Linked DNA regions of Homo sapiens: region 1 is reported to be linked to region 2. The links are microRNA targets in miRTarBase. Many come from high-throughput screens and were not tested one by one. Region 2 holds a microRNA gene; the other region holds the end of a gene's coding sequence.
The links. The annotated mature microRNA hsa-miR-4741 reads CGGGCUGUCCGGAGGGGUCGGCU and lies in region 2 at 1,552-1,574, opposite strand. An mRNA with a match to its seed (bases 2 to 7 or 8) in the 3' UTR can be bound and repressed. Matches are read on the target gene's strand: a 7mer-m8 pairs with bases 2 to 8, a 7mer-A1 pairs with bases 2 to 7 and ends in A, and an 8mer does both.

Region 1 (4,391 bases), not on the chromosome of region 2:
AACATGTAAATGTCCTGCGGCTACCACAGAATCAATCTTTATCTCCTCCTGTCCTGTAGGCGGTGGGAGCAAGGAAAAGGAGGCAAAACCCCCACAGGAAGACCTGAAAGGGGCGCTGGTGGCACTGACATCAGAGAGGTTTGGGGAAGCCTCTCTCCAGGGCCCTGGGCTCGGAAGGGTCTGTGAGCAGGAGCCTGGTGGCCCTGCAGGCAGTGCGCCTGGGCTTCCTCCTCCCCAGCACGGTGCCATCCCCCTGCCTGACGAAGTCAAAACCCACAGCTCCTTCTGGAAGCCTTTCCAGTGCCCTGAGTGTGGGAAAGGATTCAGTCGGAGCTCCAATCTCGTCAGGCACCAGCGAACCCACGAAGAGAAGTCTTATGGCTGTGTGGAGTGTGGGAAGGGCTTTACCCTGAGAGAATACCTGATGAAGCACCAGAGAACCCACCTGGGAAAGAGGCCCTACGTGTGCAGCGAGTGCTGGAAAACCTTCAGCCAGAGACACCACCTGGAGGTGCACCAGCGCAGCCACACTGGGGAGAAGCCCTACAAGTGCGGGGACTGCTGGAAGAGCTTCAGCCGCAGGCAGCACCTGCAGGTGCACCGGAGGACGCACACCGGGGAGAAGCCCTACACCTGCGAGTGTGGCAAGAGCTTCAGCAGGAATGCCAATCTGGCGGTGCACCGGCGTGCCCACACTGGCGAGAAGCCATATGGGTGCCAGGTGTGCGGGAAGCGGTTCAGCAAAGGGGAGCGGCTGGTCCGACACCAGAGAATCCATACAGGGGAGAAGCCCTACCACTGTCCTGCCTGCGGGCGAAGCTTCAACCAGAGGTCCATCCTCAACCGGCACCAGAAGACCCAGCACCGCCAGGAGCCGCTGGTGCAGTGAGCATAGCAGGTGGCAGGCAGCACCATCATTCATCTTTCTCACTGCAGGGCCTTGCGGGGTGCAAGGTGATGGCTGCAGGAAAGCACTGGTCCCATCGCCTTCCCACCCATTCGCCAACGCGGGAAAGGCAAGGCCTGGCTTACTTAGAGCTTCCAGAGAGCATAGCTGCTTCCATCTCTTACCCAAGTGGTGCTAAACAATTTTTCTTCCAATGTTTGAGGGAAGCAGTCTCCTGCGGTTCAGTTCAGGCTGAGATTTTCTCCTTCAGTGGACTGTCTGTGTCCCCCTGCCGAACAAAGCTGGGAGTAAAGGCAAAACCTTGACACGTGTTGGTAGCTGGGACCTCATCTTCCTGAGGGCTCTGTCTTGCCTGCAGGGTCATAGCTCAGACTCTTCCCCCACCCCCTCTCTTTTCCATTGAACAAACATTTATTGAACATCCTCTGAGCACCTGGCCGTGGGAATGCCGTGGTGAATGAGAGACTAGACGTGATGCCTCTGGGGGTTGTGCGTTGGGGATGCATGCGACAGCCCATGACCCGAGGCATTCTCAGGGTATCTGTGCTGTGTGCCCGTGAGAACATCTTCCCATGACCACTCCTGCCCTCCTGCCCCGTGCTGGATCTTCCCTCCCCAGCTGGGATCTGCTCCCAGGCAACTGTGTGAATTTTACATTATTTGGAGCCTCATCTGTGTCAGGCTATAACATTCTATCCTCATCTGTAAAACTTCCCCGTCCATTATTCCTTGCACTATAACAACTGTCAACACACCAACTATTAGGAAGTTAGTATTTTGCTATTGATCACTGAATAAACATCAGAGTATTTTAAAAAACAGTTCTCTAGAAAGAACTGTTATAATTAAAATGAGTCTGAAAGATGAACTCTAGTATTAATGCCCTATATTTGATGGCACTTTATAGTTCATAAAATTAATTTCACCCCATTCTCATTGGACCCATTTCCCAAGTATTTATTGAGGCCCTGTAACAAACATGTCAGGAACTCTTCTGGGTGCTTGAGACACATCCATGAATAAAATAGGGGGAGAAGCTGTTGACCTCGTAGAGCTTATGTCTCGTGGATGTACCTGATCTTCAGAACCCGTGGATATTCCTGCAAATCCTCTGGGCCTGTATTCATTGCTTTGTCAGCATCTTGCCCTGAAATGCATTTGTCACCTACCTCTTGTTACTAAATGGTCTCTGCCCTCCAGACCCTTGTCATCCAAGGCACTAGGGGTCCTGGACACCCACTGGGGATGATGAGCTGGTAGCGACCTGTTTTGCATGAGTGCCAAGTCAGGAAAAATAAAGATATTTGTAGGCATTAAAAAAAAATACATTTCTTTAAAAATGAGAAGATGCAATATTTGTAAACTGTTGAAGCTTCCTTATTGTGCCATCACTTAAGGGTTTCATTTCTGTTTAAAGTTCTGGAAGCTGCATAACTAGCGTGGACTGACTGCTGTGTCATTGTGCTGTGCCTTTGAACCCTGGCTGAGTGAGTGAGTTTGTCCTTTGTTGATAGTGTCCTATAATTGCAAAATGTGGTTTGTCTTCTGATGCCTCTTAATACCAGATTCTTTTACTGAGATTTTTTTTTTTCATTTTCCATTGTAAATAAGGTAAATGGTAATGACTAACACAAAGCTGTATTACTCAGCCCACTTTGAAACGTGGTTTTATCACCTGTTCTTGTTAGGCAGCATGGTGTCTAATTTTGGCTTAGCAAATGACGCTCCTTGGTCTTCCTGGCTCATTAGCTGTGCCCACGAGGCTGCACTGACTGGGTCGTAAATGTATCTGAGATGTCCACACGGGGCTGCTGCTGCTCCTCTGTAATACTGAGGTCCACATGCAAAATCAGCTTTTTTTCCCCCGTAATTATCAGAGCAGCTAGGCAGGGCTGACAGCCAGGCAGACTCAGTGGGAGGCTTCTGGCCTGAGTGTGGCCTTCCCCAGAGGGTGGTTTTCCAAAGGCAGGTGGGGACTGGGGAGGCCTCGGGGGGCTGCTTGTCATTACCTGAATCACAGATGCTCTTTTGTCATACACAGCCAGCATTCCTCTGGGTTTCAGCAAGTTGGCATATCTTAAGCTTCAGAAGGAGCTGGGCCTTGCTGACTTTCCTATCTGGCCTCTTCCCTATCTCCTGTGGGGCCAAGAGCTTAGGACAGTGTCTCAGAAAAGCCTCTAAGTAGGGGGTTTTTCCCATGGGATTGTGGTAGTCTGATTTTTCATATCTATTCAAATGTTAAGAAATATTTTGTTTTCTGTATTTTTCTATTCTTTAGAAATTTTTTTATAATAGATAATTTCAAACCTATATAAATAAATCCTTATGTATTTATCATTTGACTTTATTATAAACTCATAATCAATCTTGTTTCATCTCTGTCCACTCCTTCCTCCCCGTCTTCCTCCCCCACTGAAGTTTCGAAGTGTATCCCAAGTGTTGTTTATAACCATTTCAGTGTGTACCTGTAAAAGGTAAGGGCGGCTGGGTGTGGTGGCTTACACCTGTGATCCCACCACTTTGGGAGGCCAAGGTGGGATTGCTTGAGAGGAGTTCGAGACCAGCCTGAGCAACATAGTGAGACCTCATCTACAAACAAATATTAACTGGGCATGGGTGGTGCATGCCTGTGGTCCCAGCTATTCAGGAGGCTGAGGCTGGGCATCACTTGACCCCAAGAGGTTGAGGTTGCAGTGAGCCCTGATTGTGCCATTGCACTCCAGCCTGGGAGACAGAGCAAGACCCTGTCTCAAAACAAAACAGTTCCTTAATGTCAAAATATCCAGTGAATTTTAAGAACCCACCTAATTTTTCAATATAATATAATTTGTTGCTTTGTCTCTTAAGGCTTATAATCTGTAGTACTTATCCTTTTCTTCTTGAGATTTATTCATTTTAAAAAACTCGATCATTTATCCTGGAGAGTTTTTTACATTCTGCATTTTCTGTTGTTTTTTTTTTTTTTGAGCTGGAGTCTCGCTCTGTTGCCCAGGCTGGAGTGCAGTGGCACAGTCTCAGCTCACCGCAACCTCCCTGTCCCGGGTTCAAGCGATTCTCCTGCCTCAGCCTCCCAAGTAGCTGGGATTACAGGCATGTGCCACCATGCCCAGCTAATCATTCTGCATTTTCTGTTTGCATACCCATGGCGTGATTTAACATATTTCCCTGCCTTCTGTATTATCTAAAAATGTAGAAGTGTTTAGTGGTGTAATCAGATTCATATTTCACATTTTGGCAAGAACACATTATAGATTGTGACATGCCCTGTTTCTCTTCATATGATTTTAGAAGCCTAGATCTGCTTCTTTCGTTAGTTCTGTAAATGCTTCATCATTTAGTAGTTGGAATATTGTAAGAAATTTCCCTTCATTAACTTAGGTTACCCTTAGATATAGTTCATACAGGGAAGGCAAGAAAATGCTTGATCCTCCTCTTTATTTGCCTGTTTTCAGAATAATGAGCTAGTTACTTTTTGCTTCCTGTA
Region 2 (4,391 bases):
TTATATATTATTTAATATATAATTATATATTATAGAATATTTATATTCTACCTAACCTTCAGAAAAACTCTGTAAGACAGCTACTATAATTTCATTTTAGAGTTGGGGGAAGAGGCGTAAGGCAGTAAATGTCCAAGGTCACACAGCTGGGACATGGCTATGTCAGGGATGGAAATCAAGTCATGAGACCAATAACTGTAAAATACCTCTCTGTAGCCCGCATGTTCTCAATCATAGGTGGGAACTGAACAATGAGAACACCTGGACACAGGAAGGGGAACGTCACACACCGGGGCCTGCCGTGGGGTGGGGGGAGGGATAGGATTAGGAGATATACCTAAAGTAAATGACGAGTTAATGGGTGCAGCACACCAACATGGCACATGTATGCATATGTAACAAACCTGCACGTCGTGCATATGTACCCTAGAACTTAAAGTATAAAAAATAATAATAAAATAAAGAAAAAATACCTCTCTGCAGCAAAAAGAAAAAAAAAGAAGACATAAACGATTTCTATTAAGTCAACAGTTTAAAATGAAGGTTTAATTACTTCAATGACCGAAAAAGTATTAACATATTCGTTTAAAGAGTGTAAAATAAGCATCCTTTACGTATCTATCTTCAAGTAAGTGATGTACAGTGCCTTAAAAACAAAACATAAAAACAAAACATTCAACTTGCAAATTCTGGCTCGCAAAACCCTTTCCACCTACCCGCATGCCCGGCACTTTTTGTTAGCATCTCTCTCTGCAATGAACCGTTATTCGAGGCACGACGACAATGTACATTTTTCAATCTCTCAGAACGTCACGTCTTACCTCCCAAGTTGCATTCTGGGCTCAAAGGCCTGTAATTTGTGTGTATTCCTTAGTATAAACCACTACACTGCAGGTGCTCACCAAAATACTCGCTGCCACACCACAGGTATTCTCACACGGGTAAGGCGAGAGGCACATTTCATCACACAGGGGACTTGAACAAACTGCACGGGACATTTCAGGGGTCCTCTTATGGGCGGAGCAGAGCAGCGGGGCAAAGGCTTTCCAGCCAGGTCCCTTCTCCATCCATTTCTCCCCAGGTGCCCGCGCCGGTTCCGCGTGCGGGTCTGGCCAAAAAACCTCCGAAGCGCGCGCGCGAGCCGCAGTCGGCGCATGCGCGGGGCGGGCTTGGCGGCGAAAGGCGCTTCCTCAGCCCGCGCGGGAGACCCAGAAGTAGTACTGAGGTAGCGCTCGTCCTCCCGCCGGTCCACCACCACCGAGTGTAGCCCGGGCCCGGCCTATTTCATCAGACACAACCCCAGAGCCGGGAGCCACCCCTACCCCGGGAGCCCTTCGCCAAGCACGCAGCTCCAGACCAGAAGCAGTCGCTCCGACCCAGAGCTCCGGGTGGGGTAAAGAGATTGCTTTTACTCACCGCCTCCGAGATTGCCTCGGGATTCGCGAAAGCCCCCGAAGGGAAGCGAGCACTTTCTGAGGCTGTGAAAGGACGGCTGCTCGCTTTTCTCTTTCGCCCTTTTCCCTCACCAGAGTGCCAAATCCTCGGTGGGAAAGCCGACCCCTCCGGACAGCCCGCGCTTTAAGGCCGGGGGCTGCCGGCCGGGCTCGGAGGCGGCCGGACCCGCCCCGCCCGGGAGCCCGCGCGACGTCACGCGGGAGTTCCACTTGCGTCACGCCCCTTCCTCCAGCTGCCCATCGCGGCGGCGCACTTCGTGCCCTAGCTGAGGAGCGGGCTCTTCGGTGCGGCCCATCCCGGAGGGCGATGGTTGGGGAGGGGAGCGCTACCTCGGAGCTGCCGGGAGCTACCCGAAGAGTCTGGCGACCGCCACAGCATTTCTGAATTGCGCTGGGGAAAGCTCAAGCCGTTCTGTTGGGGGAGCATCAAGCCCTTGCGGTTCTGTGAAAGTTATCTGTACACTGTGTCTAGCTTAAGCATTTTGCAGGGAAGCATGTGTAGAGTGACCTGTACCGAATGAAGAGTTAAAATTAACTGATGGGGGGTATGGACGCGGATCCGTCTAACATAGTTTTCGGCCTTGTCGCTGTTATCTGCAGTTTAGTGATGTGACCTGACAGGGTTGTGCGGTAACGCCATAGATCAAAACGATCTGTATTTTGCTGAGGTTAAACGGGAAGTTTCTGGCAAATTTGAAACGAGAAGGAATCTCCTTCAGCATTATTTATTGGGACAACATGCTGTTAGATAATTTTTTTTAAAAAGTCCATTTTTCTTGTGGCTGTTCGTTTGAGATTCAAACCGATAGTAGGTATTCCTATTTCTCCTGATTTGTAAAAGAATCGTTTTTAGACCACTAGAAATTCTACAAATGAACAAAATAGACTAGAATCAAATATCTTTTAAACCAGTCCAGTACTTTTGTGTAATTATTCTAAGACCTGGGAAGGGATAATATTAACAGGCTTTAAAAGTTTAGTACTTAGAAATCATAAATACAAAGTGGAAAGGTAATTTTTCCACCTGTCCCACATCTTAAGGGATGAATAAATATAACTTAAAAAGTTAGTATACAGAAGAGGGGTGCTAAACCTTCTATTAGCCTGTTACAGCAACTATCATTCACTTCCCCATTTTATAAGACTTAACTCCACATTTTTAAAAGAAAATGGATGAAATTTTGACTATGTAATTTTTAACGCAAGATAGGAAACATAATTGACAGAGTGAAGCTTTTATGTTTATGACAGAAATAACCTGTAATAAGTTTGTCATTTAACAGAGTATTGAAAGAGCAGTGTGCTGTGGTCTCTACTGTGGTCCAAAGAAAAACTGAGCAGAATGACCCAACCTGTTCCTATGGCCTCTGCCTGTGTCTCACTCTCTAATCCATTTATGCAAGTCAGAAACCAAAGAGTCATCCTTGACACTTTATTCATCCCTAACTTCCATATCCAAGCCATCACGCAGTCCAATTTTACTTACTAAACATGTAAATCCATCCCCTTCTCTCCATCACTACCTCCATAATCCAAGATACTGTTATTTCTTACCTAGTCTACTGCTAGGCTCCTTTCCACATCCACGCTACCAACCACCCCTCCTAAATCTTTGTTTTCACTGGTGTTCAGAAAAAAATTTGAACTTCTATTCTCCATATATATATTTAATTTTAAATTACATACATGTACTGTTGAAAAATGGTACATGATCTAATGAAGTTACAGGCTCTGAAGTCAGACATCTGGGTTTAAATCCTGCTCTAATACTTCCTTACTGAGTGACTTTGGACTGACTGCTTAAGCTCGCTGTCCCATTTTACCTACCTGTAAATTGAGGATAATAATAGTACCAACCTCACAGGGTATTAAGATTAAATGAATATATGTAAACTGCTTAGTATTCAGATATATACTATGTGCCCAAAAGCTAGCCATAATTAGTATTTCTTAGCTAATATGATTATAATCCATTTTAAAAGCATTTTTAAAGGATAAAAAATAGAATAAAAATACATCTTCCCTCCTCCACCTTAAATTGTGTCTACTTTGAGACCACTTCTCTATACTGCAGCTACTGTGATCTTGAAAAGTAAATCTGTTAATGTCACTATGCTGCTTAAACCCTTTCAGTGGCTTCCAGTTACTCTGTGAAGGAAGCCCCTTTGAATTGCCTCTGCTACCCCTTTGGCTTTATTTCCAGACATTTTCTGTCCTCTGGTCTCACTAGACTTTTGATGTCTCCTAGGCCATTGCGTGCTATTGTCTCTGCCTGGAGTTCTCCACCAAACCTACCCCCACTCTTTGCCCCAGCTATCTACTAATCATGTTTTTATCTTATTTCAATAGTCTCTTCTACTAGATCCTCCTACAGTACCATGTAACCTCCCCATCTTACAGTTTTTATTGTTTTAGTTATTTAATTAATTCTGTCTCCCCACTGGACTGTAAATTTCTTGAGATAAAAAACCACGTCTTGGGCCAGACTTTGGGTGGCTGAGGCAAGAGGATCACTTGAGGCCAGGAGTTCAAGATGAGCTTGGGCAACATAGTGAAATCTTGTCTCCTATTCTAAAAATCAAACCAAAATAGCTGGACACAGTGGTTCGTGCCTCTAGTTCTAGTTACTGTGGAGGCTGAGGTGGGAGGATTGCTTGAGCCCAGGAGTTCAAGGCTGCAGTGAACTATGATTGTGCCACTGTACTCCAGCCTAGGTGACAGAGCGAGAGACCCTGTCTTAAAATTAAAAAAATAAAAAATAAAAAAGGTTTGTTCACCCTTTTATCTCCAGGAACTAGCCCAGTGTCTGCCACCAAATCAATATTCTATGAATGAATGAAATGGGCATTCCCTGGTGGATCCCATTTCTATGTAAATGGAAACCTTTGGGTACATTCAAAATTCTTAGATTTTTAAATGAGATTTTATATGGCCACT

Region 1: the mRNA of ZSCAN25 is a reported target of hsa-miR-4741. Seed matches in the 3' UTR shown: 8mer at 1,417-1,424 and 7mer-A1 at 2,554-2,560.

What each region holds. Positions count from the first base shown.
Region 1 is chr7:99,629,132-99,633,522 of GRCh38, forward strand. ZSCAN25 (zinc finger and SCAN domain containing 25) reads left to right here. Exons shown (of 8, transcript NM_145115.3): 8 at 60-3,277. The coding sequence ends at 889. Among named protein-coding and RNA genes, the nearest start is that of ZSCAN25, 14 kb to the left of the region's middle. RefSeq lists an enhancer at 706-1,352.
Region 2 is chr18:22,930,590-22,934,980 of GRCh38, reverse strand. MIR4741 (microRNA 4741) reads right to left here and starts at 1,632; the gene lies at 1,543-1,632. It overlaps RBBP8 (RB binding protein 8, endonuclease), which reads right to left and starts at 1,653. Exons shown (of 19, transcript NM_002894.3): 1 at 1,417-1,653. It overlaps RBBP8-AS1 (RBBP8 antisense RNA 1), which reads left to right and starts at 1,217. Exons shown (of 5, transcript NR_198963.1): 1 at 1,217-1,393. RefSeq lists enhancers at 860-909, 1,270-1,399, 1,083-1,923 and a silencer at 1,530-1,609.